2 separate regions of the Homo sapiens genome follow, and region 2 is linked to region 1. Evidence: fine-mapped expression QTL. A gene starts in region 1. The other region holds a variant in brackets. All regions are shown on one strand. Distances are from middle to middle.

Region 1 (8,338 bases):
CAATTTTTTTTTTTTCCAAGACAGGGTCTCGCTCTGTTGCCCGGGCTGGAGTGTAGTGGCACGATCTCACCTCACGGCAACCTCCACCTCCTGGGTTCACCCAATTCTCATGCCTCAGTCTCCCGAGTAGCTAGGATTACAGGCGTGTGCCACCATGCCCAGCTAATTTTTATGTTTTTAGTAGAGACAAGGTTTCACCATGTTGGCCAGGCTGGTCTCAAACCCCTTGTCTCAAGTGATCCACCTGCCTTGGCCTCCCAAAGTGCTGGGATTACAGGCGTGAGACACTGCACCCAGCCATGCCACACACTTTTACACAACCAGATCTAGTGAGAACTCTATCACAAGACAGCACTAGGAGGATGGTGCTAAACCATTAGAAAAAAACTCATGATCCAATCTCACCAGGCCGCACCTCCACACTGGGGATTACAATTTGACATGAAATTTGGGCAGGGACACAGATCCAAACCATATCATGTGGGTATTTTATTTATAACTTATATGTATGACACATACACATTATATATGTTATGTATATGGCATATACATTATATATATGTAAAATGTGGCATTTACAAAATATTTCATAATAAAAATTAATGAAATTCACACATTAAGCACATTTTGGGGACCCTTCTTATTTACTAGTCTCATAATCCCGTCCAAAGAGGAAATAAAGTTGGCTTGGCAGGAGTTGTTCTTCATGATGGTCTCTTTCATCTTTTCTTTTTTCTATTCTTTTAACCTCTTCCAAAAAGGATTTAAAGAGGCTTACAAAGCACCAAGTAAAAGTAAATTCATAATAAATAAAACAAAGCAAAAAGAAAATAAGGTTTCCAAAGCAAGACAGAGCAGGAACCACATTAGCTCTGGCCTGGATGTTCTGTTTGCCTCTTCTGATCCTCTTTCCACCCTTCTCTACCTGTTCTATGCTCCCTGAAGGGCTCCTGTGTCTCCTTGCTTCTCCTATAGCTACAGGGCTCACTGGGTTCTGATAACTGCTCTGTCCTCCTGATGCTTTGGGCCTAGAGACAGGTAGCACTTCCTGTGAACCATCCCTTGCTGGCTTCCTTCATCCTGCCACACCTTTGTAACTTACTCCTTCACTAAGCCCTTCTTACTTCACCCTTTGGAAGGTGCCACGTTTCCTGTCAGGGACCCTGACTGCAACCGCCCACAAATTGTATGCCTTAATTCTATACACCTGCAAGATGCGGGCCTAAGGTCTTAGAGTCATTATCAAGTGGGAGACAAAATCGGTTAAAGAATCCCATCTCTCAAGAGAAGCAGACATACTCCTGACACCAAAATGGGCAAGAAATTTCCTCTTGTGGTTTCTCAAAGAGAGGACATTGTGGTGTAATAATCCCATTCTTTTCTCTTACAAACCATCTCTAATCCACTCAGGGCTCAGCCCTCAAATCTCTTCTTATCCACACTCACTGTTTGATCTTATCTAGTCTTACAGCTTTAAATATACACATGCTGATGACTCCCAGTGTGTGCCTCCGGTCCTGACTTTCCCCTCAAATCATTTTCACTATCTAACTGCCTATTTTTTGGATATCCAATAGGCATCCCAAGTTCTTTGTATGTCCAAAACAAAACTTCCAGTGTTTATTCTGTAATTCTCTCCTCCCAGTGTGCCCTCATTTCAATAGAGGGCCCCAGCATCATTTGCCTGGTTGCTCAGGGCATGTGTGTATGTATATGGGGGGGCAGGAGGAGTGGGGTAGTAATGGAAGAAACCTGTCATCCTTTTTTTTTTTTTTTTTTTTTAATAGCGATGAGGTCTTGCTATGTTCCCCAGGCTGGTCTTGAACTCCTAGGTTCAAGCGATCCCCCTGCCTTGGCCTCCCAAAGTGCTGGGATTATAGGCGTGAGCCACGATGGCTGGCCCTGTCATCCTTGATACCTTTTTTCCTCACATTCCACATCCAATCCGTCTCACACCATGTTGGCTCAGGTCTTCAAAATACATTCAGAATCTGACCAATTCTCGTGACCTCCATCACTACCACTCTAGCTCAAACTACTACAGTTTCTCATTCTACCATATTTATTCCTAACTAGTTTCCCTTCTTCTATTCTTGCAATCTTCCAGGGTCCCACCTCCATCAGCCAGTGTAATCCTTTAAAAATATGTCATATCATATCATCTCCTGCTCAAAATCCACTAACTGCTTCCCACCACACTTAGTCTTCACCATGGCCTACAGGGCCTTACATGCACGATCTTGCCCCTGGCATCTTTATTTTCTGTCACTCTTTCCTCCCTCCCTCCCTCCCTCTCTCCCCCTCTCTCCCTCCTTCCCTCCTTCCCTCCCTCCCTCCCTGCCTCCCTCTCCCTCCTTCCAATCCAGTCATAACAGCCTCCCTGATGTTCTGTGAACAAGTCAAGCGTGCTATTTGAGGCCTCGGGACCTTTGCACTTGTTCCTCTGACTGAAACACTCCTGTTCAGATATCTACATACCTCACTCATTTAAGTCTATGCCCAAATGACAAACCTTCAGGGAGGTCTTCTCTAATACCTCCACCATTGCCTACTTTGCTTCACTTTTCTTCACAGCACTTATCAGTACCTGATATGACATGAAATATGTAGATACACATTTGTTTATTGTCTGTATTTCCATTTGGAGTGTAAGCTCTAAGAAAACAGGTTTTTGTTTGTTTTTTCCTTTCATCCCAGCATCCCCAGTGCCTGTGACTTTAGACAGAGCAGGCCCTAGGTAAACGTCTGTTAAATGAATGGATGACTCTGTTCTAATTTGTCTAATTTCTCGAGTCACCCTCAGCCAGATCCAACAAATATTTGAGTCTTAATTATGTAAGTGACACTTAGCTAGATGCTTACAGCTTTAAGAACGTATAAAACAGCCCCTAACCTGAACTGTGTCCTTTTGGGAGGGTACTGATTGGGAGAGGGCACAAGGAAACTCCCAGAGTACAGAAATGTTCTTTCTCTCCATCTGGGTGGTAGTTACACAGGTGCATACATAAGAGCAAATCTACTGAGTCATATTCTTAAGATGTGTATTTTATGTTGCACCCCAATAAAAGTTTTTGTTGTTGGTTTTTTTAAGGTTCTGACGTATCTAGACACAAAACGAGATAATTTCCCAACGTGGCAAGACCAATGATGGAGCTGCACAGCCTGCTTTGTGAGCAGTGAGAAAGTCACCCTCCAGGTACTAAGATTGGCATACCCTTTCCTTGATAAGAGAAAAAGGGTAAGATGTAGCCTGTTATTCCTCTGACGCTGGAATGTCGTAGAGATCACGGGCCTCTCCTAACCCCTGGAACCATCTTCTCACTGTGGCGCTGTTCATTGGGGCCCAGCAACAGAGATCCCGAATACAGGACGCTGGATCAGTGGGGCCTCGAGCCCTTAAGTGAGATGCAGCAAGGCAGAGCGGCCTTTGGGAGAGGGCAATGGGGCAGCCCTGTGCTTTAGACTTGGCTTGAGGAGGTGACACTGTGTCCACGTGCCTGTGAAGAGAGAACGGCTGAGTATACACGCGACCCGCCAGACTTCACAAACGGAGGAGACGCGGGTCACACCAGTGCGCATGCTCAGCAGGGGCTTCTGCCACGCAGGCGCACGGCGGCCGGCGCGGGCCGAGCGGAGGCAACTGCTGTGCGGCCTGCGGGCGCGCGCTCCCTTATCGGCCAACGGACGCGAGGCGCGCGCCATGGAACAGCGGTTAGCTGAGTTTCGGGCGGCGCGGAAACGGGCGGGTCTGGCGGCCCAACCCCCTGCTGCCAGTCAGGGCGCACAAACCCCAGGAGAGAAGGCGGAAGCAGCAGCGACTCTAAAGGCAGCCCCAGGCTGGCTAAAGCGGTTCCTGGTATGGAAACCTAGGCCCGCGAGTGCCCGGGCCCAGCCCGGCCTAGTTCAGGTGAGACGATGGAAACTTCGGCCCTAGGACCTGGCCTCGGAGCCACAGTCGAGGGCGCGGCCCTAGCTGCCGGGGGTGTGGCCCTAGCTGCCGGAGGCGGGGCTACTGGCCCCCCATCCTGATCGAGGGCCGGACCGCTCATCTCCGGCCACACGTGTCAGCACTGTTACCAGTTTTGACATTTTCTTTCCAGCCCGCGACCCACGCAGGTCCTGATTCCAGCGAGAGTCGAGGGTCCTGGGAGAAAGCACCTCTGCTCTTAAATTATTCACTCCGAATTGAGTTATCGTGACGCCCTGTGGCATTGGGAAACCTCTCCACAACCAAGTTGAGCCACAGCCCTCTGCTAATGGAGGAGGGTAAAAGGTCTAATTGGATACCGATCACAAGTAGCAGTAATTAAAACTTCATTTGATTCGCACCTGGGGCACATGCAGCTAGTAGCCCAGATAGCCTGTGACTTAGAAATGCGTTTGAATACAGAATTTACCAAAGTGTGGTAGCTGTAACTGCCGGTAGTGGCAGAAGCTTATTCCAGTTCCATAGTGAATGTTCAAGACACAAACAAAAAAAAGTGATTTAGTATGATAACCTTTTCACATTTAATTGTTTTGGTAATCTCTTGTTTTGCAGATGAATTTAATTTGCATCCTTTTGTGTTTTCATTTAGTTTTAACTCAGTAAAATGGTAAGGTGGCTTGCAGTGAGGTTGAAATGTCTATGTGGAAATACAAGACAAAACATATCAAGGGATGAGTGCTTTGTAACAATTTGTGCCCAGTGCTTTGTTCCTCATAAGTGCAATAAGAACTAAAAAATTCCTTTTAAAATGAAAATATACTGGAAGAAAAGTGTACCTTGCTCACCTTAAAATTATTTCCTGTAAGTTCATCTATTATTGCACAACATTTGATTTGAGGGAATTTTTAAAAATTACTGAACCTATTACTCAATTTTGATTTGATATTCTCAGTGATATACAGGATTCCAGCTGACTTGCAGAAAGGTGAAAAGAGCGCAGCAGAGTTCAGACAATCCATTTCCTTGTGTGCAGTTTGTGTTAATTGTCTTTGGATAATTTTATTGTTGACTAGAACTTTCTAAGTACAACACTTGCTTAAGATTTTAGAAACCATTTCCCTTATTCTTTTTCTCTCTGCAGTTAAAAAACAATGTCTAACCCATGCAATGAACTTTTGACTGTATGTCTCATTTCCAAAGGAATGAGATCATTGAGGTGGACCCAGAGAAACTGAATTCAGAGAAAAACTTCCATTATTGAGAACCCAAACGCTGATTGCCAGACAAAAGGATGAGAGGAAATGCTGGACCTCCAGTTTCTTGTTAATTGCTCTGTTTTTCCATAAGGGACTCTGCCTTAAGCTCATTTTCATTGACTTATCATTTCTGGGTTTGCTCTGGTGTGAAAATTCTCATTTAATTTTTTTTCTTCAGATTCTGCCTCTAGTTTAGAAAAGAAAAAGTCTAATTTACAATTCATGTCAGACAATTTTGATGGCACACTGTGGCCTGTCAGAGATTTCTTTAGCATTCTATTTTTTTAAATTATTTTTAATTTTTGTTTTTTTAATTGAAACAGCTTTATTGAAATAAGGTTTACATACTACAGAATTTATCTCTTTTAACATACAGTTCAAAGATTTTTAGTAAATTTATTGAGTCATGCAACCATCACTGCAACTTTAGAACGTCTCTATCACTCCAAGAAGACCCCTCTTGCACATTAGCAGTTACTACCCATTTCCAACCCCAGCCCCGCACAAATGTCAGTCTGCTTTCTATCTATACATTTGTCTTTTCCGGATGTTTCATGTAAATGGAATTATACAGTATGGTAAACACATTTTTTGTCTATTAATTTTTATATTCAACTAGGTTCAACATGTAGCCGTAGCCAAATATTTTAAATTTTCCTTCTGGAAGTTTGAAAATATTTATCTTTTTTGATACTTACTTCTCCTTCTGCTTTCTCTTTTTCATACTGAAACAGTCTTTTAAATGATTGCATTCATTGATTAATTCCTTATTTTTCCCTTCTAGCAGAAGACCTTCCTTTTCACTCTCAAGACAGCATCCTTGGATATTAATTACCTTTTGTTCATTATCCCCTTTCTTATGAGCACCATCTAGTTGTTGAAGCAACAGATTTTCATGTTGTAGTTGAGATATTCTCTCCTCTACGTAGTCCCACTTTCCAAAGGATTTACTTGGCTTAGGTCCTTTTGTACACTTTATAAAACCAAAACCTTTTCTCTGAGAGAATTTCTTGTGTCATGGAGTTTACTTTTTAGGGTATTGAATTCGAGCTTCGGAAAGTTGCTCAGTTAAAAACTCATTATTATCTTTTAGTTCAGAAATATCAGAACTCATTTTCTTTCTTGTAAAGAAACGTCTTGTGCTCTCTGTAAAGCAAGTTCTAGGTCTCTTTTTGTTTTCACACTTTGATCACACTCACTTATAGCAGCAGCCAGTCTAGCATGGAATGACTCAACTTCAGCTTCCAGTCTTTCCTTGTTTTGATTTTCCTTCTCCAGTTTAGACTTGAGCATTGTATTCTCAGTTTTGAGGTCGTTAAGCTGTTGACCATACTGGGATACTGTTTTTGTTAATGTTTTTCCATTCAGTTTTATAGTCTCTTGAAGGTCATCATTCATTTCTTTAACAATTTCAATGTCCTTTTTCCCTTTCGAGGTTCCTATTTTTTATTGTGTATACTTACATACACAATAAAGGCAATATCTCTCTTCAACAAGCAATTTTCATGCATCAGATCTTTTTTTTTCTTAAAGTATTTCTTCAAGCCTTCAATTCTATTTCTAGTGATCCGATAGTCAGTTTAAGCTGTTCTTTTACTTCAACTTCTTTCCTATGTTGCTCCACTTTCCTTTCTAACTCTTCCCTAATTTTTTCATATAACATATTAGCATTTCTTCTCATCTTCTTCTAAGCTGCAAACTGTAGAGTTCCTGTTTCCATTCTACTTTTTGATATTGAACTGTGACTTCGTTTCTTGTGTTTTGGATAGCTCCTTCAGTACACTAAACTCAGTTTTCATATTTCTTATTGTCTAGTGTAAGTTGTTCACAGATAATTTTTTTTAAGGTCCAGTGACTTTTCACATGAAAGAAATGCATTCTGGACTTCCATTAGGATACGAGAATCATTACAATCCATTCCATATTGCTTAATGAGCATCATAAACTTCTTACAATGAGGGTAAGGTTTCTCATGATCCTCTGAAGCTGTTTCAGAGGGCCGAGTTAAGTCATCAGGTTCATCTCTAAATGAGTTTGCTTTTTGACCTTTTTCTTTTCATTTGACATTTTCTTTGCAGGCCTAGCATACTCTTTGTTCTCCTTCCTAGGAAATCGCTGATGGTAAGTTTTTCCACTCTTTCTTTGTTGAATTAATTTATCATCATCGTCAGCAGATGTACTATCATATACGTTTTTTTGATACTTTTTTTTTTTAACTTTCGTGCTTCTTTCTAGCTTCTTCAACCTGTGGCTGTTTATTTTCACTTTCAAGCTTTTCCTGTTCTTCCTCTGATGTCACTTGTACTTCTTGTTCTGCTTTGGATGTTTGTTCGTTCTTCCTTTCTATTGCTTTCTTCACAACAGAATCTTTCATTTCCATGGTAGGCTTTAGGGAAGGATGTTTTTCAGGAGGCCCTTCTCCCTTTCCATTTACTATATATTTTTTCCTTTTTTATATGAAGGTCCAAGTAAAGACTTTGAAACACTCTCAGGGATACACTGCTTGGTAGTAAAAGTCAAGTCTTCATCATCTGGTTTAGGCCATGAGTCAACACACAGTTTTTTTTTAAATACTGAATGCAGATGCTTCAGAACTCCCAGAATCTTTTGCACTTGCTCCTCCTGTTTTCAAACTTGCATTCTTCTTGGATGCTTCTTCTGGGTTGTCATTTTGAAGACCATTTTCAAGTATCTTTTTTTTTTAATGTTGCAAAATTTGTTGTGAGTGCTTGTCAGACCACCAGAAATAGCATAATCTGCAGTCTGTTCATACATACTCTTGAGTAAAGACAATATTTTGTTGAAGAAGAATGCTAACTATACCTGACAAGCCATAATGTACAACAGGCATGAGAGCTGTTCTTTTCAACCTATCAACAGCATGTACATTTGCTTGTTTCTTCACTAAAATTCCACCTTTTGCTGTGTTTTGCAAACTATAGCAAGTAAAAGTGGTGTGTTTGCATCCTTGTTCAGCACTTCAGTATCCTTGTTCAGCACTTCAGTATTCACATGGTGTGAGGGCAGTTTTTCTGCCAGTAGTGTATTCTCATTATACACAGCATAGTGTAGTGCATTGTTGCTATAGACATCCATAAGATCTGGGTTGGTGCCACATTCTAGCAGAATGATGACACAAATCTCTTCTTGGCAA
Region 2 (8,338 bases), 28 kb before region 1:
GAGCTAGAGAGATTTAGGCTGAGATACATTCAGGCAATTTTAGAAGGAAGAAGTTAACAAGAAGGGGCAGATGTGGTTGCAGTAGCCAGACACCAAGTTCCAGTTGTTGGTCACCAGCTTCATGGGCTCACAACAACCATGGTGACAGCAGCAGGGGCAGCAACAGCAGTTCCTGACCTCTGACCTGCAGCTGTGGAAATGTGATCTTGAACCATTAGCCTCGGGGTGGCCCCTGACATCTGATTGCTTGGATTAAGTCTGACTGGGGCTTGACAGAGTGGTTTCTGCTTTGTGCCCTGACTCCTACTTCTACAAAAGACCTCACTAAAAAGTGGCTTCATGATGCTCTCCTCTCTGCATTTACCCAGTAGGTTCAGGAAGGTTCCCTGGATCCTCCTTATCAGGCCCATCAGAGAGAGACAAGGCCCTGTGATTAGAGCTGTCGTGATGACCTAAGAAGCAGAGAAAGAATCAGCAATAGCCAGCCTGGCACAGAACATTGCATTAACTGCATTGGTGCTCTTGCATTGATTTAAAATCTTATCATAGAACAGAGTCCCACTAACCAGAATCTTCCATGAATATGATGTCCTGCCTCTGGATGTTGTTGAGCTCGGGGCTGGGTGTCTGTCTCTCACCAGCCAGAGGGCCCAGCCAGATTTTATTGCATTGCGATATTTATAGCTGTAAACACTTGGGTGCCTTTAAAGGAATGTCTCATTTTAAAAACCCCACGTTTCTCAAATTAGGACACAAACCATAAACTTTTCATCATAGGCTAGCAAAAAGTAGCTTCTTGACCTCCTCTGATCCACTCCCCACTGTAGTCCAGTTTCAGGATGGGGATAAGAAAAAGTGATTTATAAAACTGCCCCCAGCACTGGTAGATGAGAACCACAGACACAAGGTTATTGGGCTGGTGGGTGCTGACTTCATAATGAACCCAAAGTTGAGCCCAAAGTTGAAGGTTAAGAAAACAGAGACAGATGGACCAGGAAACATGAAGACGGACAGGATATGACTGCTGCAGGCAGGGAGGGAAACACATCCTTAGCGTTTTAATAACAACCTCATCAAGTGCCTGCTGCGGATGTTTCACATGTGATCTTATTTAATCCTCACAACAACCCTATAAACTAGGATTATTAATACCATTTTACTAACGACAAAACTGAGGTTTGGAGAGATTAAGAGACTTCCTCCGGGATCCTGGCACAAGCATGGATCCCCCGGGATCCATGAGGTGAATCTAGAGAGTGTGAGTGCAGAGCCTGGCTTGGAACACGCTGTTGATTCTGGGCATGTTCAAAGGTGTTACACCAAAGAAGCAGATAAAAACCAGTTTGGAAAATAACAAGTTTTGGAAATTCTGGGTTAATCAAAGTGAAACAGGTTGGATGTTTTGTGTGCTTGTTTTCTGCTGCAGAACTTCTCAGAGCCTTTAATGATGCTACCGTGCTTTGTGAGTCTTCAAAAAGAGGAGCAATTATGCAGTTCTTCTTGAATACCTTTGAGCGCTGAACACATTTCTCATAGGGCATCTTCAGGGCTTAGTATCCCTCAAAGCACATTTTGGGAAATCCCACTTAGCTGAACTCAGGCCAAACTGTGGTTCATCAGTGTGGCTTGACCTAAGTGGGGGTGAGTATGTGACTGAGATATGTTTGCTTCTGTCTACTGTCCTGCACTATCATTGTAGAGGAGAGCATGGTTGCCTGTCTGAATTCTGGGCCACTAGTGACTCCAGTCCAACATCTCCAGGAAATGTGAAGTGGGTGAGAAAACTGGCAGTGGTGGAAGAGAAGGAGCCAGGAGGCAGAGAGACTGATGGAGAGACAGGGCCTTTGAGAGATGTCCAGGGACAAAGAAGAGTCTTTTCTTTTCACACAGGGTTTATGAAATTGTAATTTCCTGAAACAGTATTCTACATTCAATCTCAGAATATCAAATATCAAGCAACTGAAATGGAGAGAAACATGTGTCCAGCAGTGGGTAGTTTTCAGTGCAGTTAAGAATAAACATGGACAGTGAGTAGCCCACACACTGAGAAGGGAGGTCTCAATGAGAGGGGTTATCATTAGGTGAGTTATGCCAGAGTGCTCATAATTTGTGTTTATTTTTATTTCCTATCCTTCTGATAAAGACAGCTGTTATTTCTACACTGCTTCAGACAGGGCTGGCTACATAATTTGTGGGGCCCAGTGCAAAATGAAAATGCAGCGCTCCTCATTCAAAAAGCAGAACAAAAGTGCTGTTACATATACAAAAACAAAGAGCTTTCTCCTTTCTTCTGCAATCCCTCAACTTGTGGTGCTTTTTATTTGCTATTTAAAGTACAAAGAGGGAGCCAGGCATGGTGGTCCACACCTGTAGTCCCAGATACTCGGGAGGCTGAGGAAGAAGGACTGCTTGAGCCCAGGCATTCAAGAGCAGTCTGGGTAACTTAGTGAGACCCCATTTTAAGTAAAGACTAAGTGATATGGTTTGACTGTCTCTCCACCCAAATCTCATCTTGAATTGTAGCCCCCATAATTCCCACATGTTGTTGGCAGGGTGGGTGGGAGGTAACTGAATCATGGAGGAGGTTCCCCCATACTCTTCTTGTGGTAATGAATGCGTCTCACGAGATCTGATGGTTTCATAAGAGGTTTCCCCTTTCACTTGGCTCTCTCATTCTCTTCTCTCGCCTGCTGCCATGTAAAACGTGCCTTTTGACTTCCACCATGATTGTGAGGCCTAGCCACGTGGAACTGGGAGTCCATTCATCCTCTTTTTCTTTATAAACTACCCCGTCTTGGATATGTCTTTATCAGCAGTGGGAAAACAGACTAATACATTAAGTAACTATGTAAAGAAAAACAAAGAAGCGTAAATTCTTAGCCTAAAGTTTATGATTCATTTTTATATGGTACAGTGCCAGTTTTAGATGCAGATTATTAAACCAAGAACAGAGGCTTCTGAGTGAAGGACTCCGCGCGACCGCACAGGTCACATGCGCGGAAGCCAGGCTTGGCTGCAGAACAGGAAGAAACATGACTTTTGTTTTCCAGCGTTCAAGCAGCTGGTTTTATGCACTCCAGACAGACAGTGTGATCGGGTGTCTGACATTTACAGTGTTTCTCCTGTGGGAAGCTAGGGTACATTTTTGAGCACCATCTCTGAAAGATTATAATGACCGCTTCATTAGAGAGAGAAAGAGGAGTCTGCAAGAAAAATGTTTCCCTTGCACTTCTTGAAGCTGTAAATGTCACTGCTCATTGTACGGAAATGCTACCAGGGCCAGGGCTGATAAGCCAATCAGGTAGCCTCCGGCAAAGGCATTTCATAAACACTGACTGAAACTGGCCTGGTAGCTTCAGGGCCCAATGGACTACACCAGGTGAGAGACTGAGAAATGGTTTCCTCGGGAGAGAACAAAACACCACCCTTCCACCTAGGAAGGGCAGGGGAGCTGGACATTACAGGAGACAGCTGTTTTCTTTCTAGAAGGTGTGCTGGGACAGAGTTAAGCCTGCATATCTGCCTTTTCCTCTGACTCCATCTTTTCCTGCTACACGAGATATCATGCAAGCA[T/C]GTTGATGCCTTATGCCTTAATTAGAATTAACGTTCCCAGCCACTGGTGCCTCTTCTTTGCTTGTTTATGAAGTTAACACTTAACGATCCTCAAACTTTATGAGACTTATGTTATTGTCCTCATTTTCCTGATGAATAAACTGAGACTTCAAAGGATGATGTGACTGATGGAGGTCACCCAGCCAAAGTGGGTTTCCCTGAGCCTGGGGGCCAGGTCTGGCTGGCTCCAAAGTGAATCCTGGTCCTCAATCTTTCCCTGCCCCTGTCCATCATCCTGAATCTTGGCTCAGCATCACAGCACCGGCTGTGGATCTGTCTGCGGGATTCAGAGGGGCTAAGGATTTTACTAAATACCAACTGTACACAAACACACACACACATATAAATGGTGTAAATAGATATCTTTAGAGTCTGGGCACATCCCTTTGAATATCCTTCATGGTGGCAAATCTTTTCCTCTGAAAGTATATTTGATTTTTCAAAATGAATGAAAATTATTTGGAGCCTGATAGTTTAGTGGGCTGTGAATTTATTCTGCAGATAAAGTGGTAAAATAGGTAATTGGGATGTGGAAGGAATGAAAGGATAAAGGTCTGTCTGTCTGTCTGTCTGTCTGCGCGTATGCACATACGCCTTTTTTTTTTTTTTTTTTTTTTTTTGAGACAGAATCTCATTCCGTCACCAGGCTGGAGTGCAGTGGCGTGATCTCAGCTCGCTGTAACCTCTACCTCCTGGGTTCATGCAATTCTCCTGCCTCAGCCTCGTGAGTAGCTGGGACTACATGTGCGCCACCATGCCCAGTTAATTTTTGTATTTTTAGTAGAGACGGGGTTTCACCATTTTGGCCAGGATGGTCTCCATCTCTTGACCTCGTGATCTGCCTGCCTCGGCCTCCCACAGTGCTGGGATTACAGGCGTAAGCAACCACGCCTGGCCCATATGCATGTGTTTTACCACCTACCCTGAGCCCAGCATCTTGCTTGGTACTGCTTTCTGCGTCCTTGTCTTATCTGTGTCCACGCTCTGAGGTGGATATTATTATTCCCAATTTCTATAGGTAGAAATTAAGGATAAAAGAGATGAAGTTACAATCCTCCAGTAGTTCACAAAACTGAAACTGGAATCTAACTTGCCTTAAGGGAATGAGAGCCTTTTTTTGGATAAAAATAAAAAATAAAAATAAACAAAAAGAAAGAAGACATTTGTTTCCTCTAAAGCGATGAGATGATTGTCTTATGTGGTCCCAGAACTGGCTCTGCAGATAATTCTAAACCATTCTGAATATGTTTGGAGAAACGGCAGCACCACTATCATAAGAGTAAAATTTCCAAAGAGACTTCTCTAATGGGCACAAACCTCACTTGGCTGTGTCTGCATTATTTTTGTTTTAAATCAGAGAATTTCCTAGTCATGCTTTGGTTATAGTTCTTTAGAACCCAGGCTTTAGGCACTAGAATGAACCCTGGAGATCCGCTTGTTCAGCACCGTCATTCCCGGGAGGCACCCTCAGCTCCGGAGATGAGCTGAGATGAGATGAGTACCTGCTCAGGCGCCCACAATGGCTAGGGGCAGAGCCTTCACTCAACCCAGGAACTTGACAATGCAGTGCTGCCTCCCCACAGCACACCGCTTCCTCCCTCGCTGATACAACATCTTTCTAACAACAATAAACTTTTTTGGGGGGAAATTTCCATGTGTCAGACACCTAAAGTACATTGTCTTACTAAGTCTTCAAGGAAACCTAAGGGTGAGAAAGAACCATTCCCATTTCACACATAATGAAACCGAGGCCCGGAGAAATCAAACAATAGGTCCAAGTTACATAGCTAGGAAAGCGAGGGCCCAGGATTTGAACCCAGCTCTGCCCACCTCTCAGTCCTGCATGTTTAACGGTACTCAATGCTGTCTCCTTTTGTCCCAGTGCCTTCTCCCTCTTCCTCCCATGTCCCCTAGGAGCCAAGTGTACAGATTCCCAGAATCAGGCACATTCCATTCAAACGCACCCTCCCTCCATCTAGTCACTTCCCTCTTTTTGTGTTTATCAACACAAATAGCCTGTCCTCCTGGCACATTTGTTTTGCTGGAGCCCTACCTTATTCCCTAGGAGCCCTGAGGAACAATGAGCTGTTACCCAAGCCCTCCGGGACTCCGCCCCCATCCTGGACAGCTTCCTCAACTTCCCCTCCTCACACTCACCCCCCTCCCTCAGAGCCTGTGTACAAAGTGCGTCAATCACTTGTTTACTTGCTTTTCCTGCCTGGGCCTGAGGTTCTGTTGGCTATTTTTCCCTCTGGAGTTTCTCCTGAGATGAGCTTTGATCTTCAGAAGGGAAGGGCCACAGGAAGATGATGAGAGATGCTAAGAGTGGAATGAGTGACGACTCATTCCATGATAGGAAACGAAAAGGTCATCTCTTAAAGAAACCAGCAAGGATGCTGGTGAGAACTGTGCATCCCTGCCAGTGCCTGGGTGGAGACAGGGACAGAATTCAAATTCCACAAGCCAGAGGCAAATCCTCCCAGACCTTTCCATCCTTAGCTAGCAGTATAATTCATCAAGTATTAAACCAATGTGTACCCTTTCCAGAAAAAGCTAGCGCTGCAGACACCCATTGGAGGGAGATGCTTTTAGATGCATATCTTCCCTTGGACAAGGCTGCTTGTGGAGACAACACAACTGCACAGTCTGATTTGAGAGCACACATGGGAACGTCTCTGGAATACTGCCTGCAATGCCACCCCAGTAGAGGTACTTATTTGGAATTCTAAAGACTAGTTTGGACCTCAAAATCCACATTAACATAAAAAAGGATCACTGGGCAGGGACATATAACTACTAAAATAATGTAGCAGCCAGGGTCCTGGCAAGATACGAAAGACATAATGAAAAGGATTTAACTGAAAATAATGTAATAAGGGACTATTTTTGGCGGGCTGTATGGGGTTAAGAGAAACAACAAGGGATGATGAGGCAGAGGGGAGGAAATACCCTTCACTTCTCTTTCCTTCTCCCCTCTGATTTCCTGCCAGTGCCTCCCACTGGCAAAACCCAGATAGTCAAGGAACAGAGGACCGTGGGTGATGTGCATAGAAGTCAGCCCCTGGGGCAGAGAGCAAGGTGGAAAGGGCAGAGAATGGATCAGAGTGGGCAAAGAAAGAATACACAGCCACCTACCCTCTCACTAACAGCTTAGGGGATGGTTTTTAACTGCCGGTCTCAGCAGAGCTGTTTTTCATGGACTCCAGGCTATTACAATAGGATTCTAACCACTGTAAAATGTATCTATTAAACAGGTCTGAAAATCAGCATTGTGCTGCTGGTCGGGTATTTTATTGTGATTACTGCCACCCCTGATTAGGCCTCTAGAAGAGGGAGAGCTCTTGCACCCCCTTTCCTATTTCCCTCTGTTCAAAGACTACACAGTACATGGGAACATATAATCTTATTACTTCACAAGGTAGGTTTGTTTTGGTGTCTTCTTGGTATGGAAGTTTTTATTGTGAAGTGTATCGTATGTATAAAAGAGTATTTGAGATATATGTAGAGTTTAAAATATAGTACATTTAATACCTATGTATTTACTACAAAAGTTAAGAAAGTGAACACTAACCTTAGAACACTAACCTTAGAAGTCCTCCAAATGCCCCTTTCTAAATAAAACCTCCAGCTTCCTCCCCAGAGGTAAACACTGTCTTGATTTTTGTGCTCATGTTTATCTTGATTATTTTTTCTTGTTGTTGACACAAGGTCTCACTCCGTTGCCCAGCCCAGAGGGCAGTGGCATGACCGCAGCTCACTGTAGCCTCAACCTCCCAGGCTCAATCGATCCTCTCACCTCAGGCTCCCAAGTAGCTGGGACTACAGTTGCACAGCGCTACACCCAGATAACTTTAAAAAAAAATTTTATAGAGATCAGGTCTCTATAAAGTATATTGCCCAGGCTGGTCTCAAACTCCTGGGCTGCTCAAGTAATCCTCCCACCTCAGCTTAAAGGCATTAACCACCACACTTGGCCCCATCCTGATTTTCGTTATAGTTTTACCACCTAGGTATATATCTCATAACAATGTATATTAAGTAGAAGCACAAATCTAGCTGAGAATTAAAGGGTAGTGTTGCCTATTTTATAAAGGTGCCCAGGAGAGAGATAAGCTGAACAGAGTGTCTGGGTAATCTGGTTTCATCTTCCCCAAGGGTTTACAAGAGCCTCTCCTGGAGGAATAGGTAGACAAGGTCATGAGTGGGTCTTCCCTTCCCCATTTTCTCTGTTCTCTCTTTTTAGAATTTCTATTATTGCAGTATTGAAACTTCGTGACTGGTCTTCTATTCAGTTTCATCTGTTTCCTTTTAGTTTCTTTCTGTATATTTTTGCTCTTTATGAGGAGGGAGATGGAAATGAGGTGATATTTCTTCAATATTTCTTCCTTCTCAGGGTTTTTCATTTTCCTTATCTTTTTTTAATTTTTAAGAGCTTTGTAATCTCCTTAAGTATTCCTTTTTTATAGCATACTGTTCTTGTTTCATGGAATTTCTTTTACTTCTCAATGAATATTGATTATAAAATTTATTTGGGAAATAAAATTTTCCTGCATAGTTTTTGTTTCTGCCAAATTGTTTTTTCTTCCATATTAGAGCTTTTCCTTATATGTAAAACTTGACTGTATGCTCATGATAACGAATAGACAGCTAAAAAAAAAAAAAACTAATAGGAAATTCTCAGCAAGTGGGCGAGGCCTGTCAACTTAGCTTCAAAGTAGGGTTATCT

The links.
Region 2: its variant is fine-mapped to the expression of SAYSD1 in whole blood (TOPMed, PIP above 0.99).

Annotation. Positions count from the first base shown.
Region 1 is chr6:39,110,452-39,118,789 of GRCh38, reverse strand. It overlaps SAYSD1 (SAYSVFN motif domain containing 1), which reads left to right and starts at 3,604. Exons shown (of 2, transcript NM_018322.3): 1 at 3,604-3,907. The coding sequence starts at 3,701. It also overlaps the pseudogene ANKRD18EP. RefSeq lists an enhancer at 3,721-4,010.
Region 2 is chr6:39,138,395-39,146,732 of GRCh38, reverse strand. No RefSeq gene overlaps it. Among named protein-coding and RNA genes, the nearest start is that of SAYSD1, 27 kb to the right of the region's middle. The variant T/C (reference allele first, on the strand shown) is at 3,574.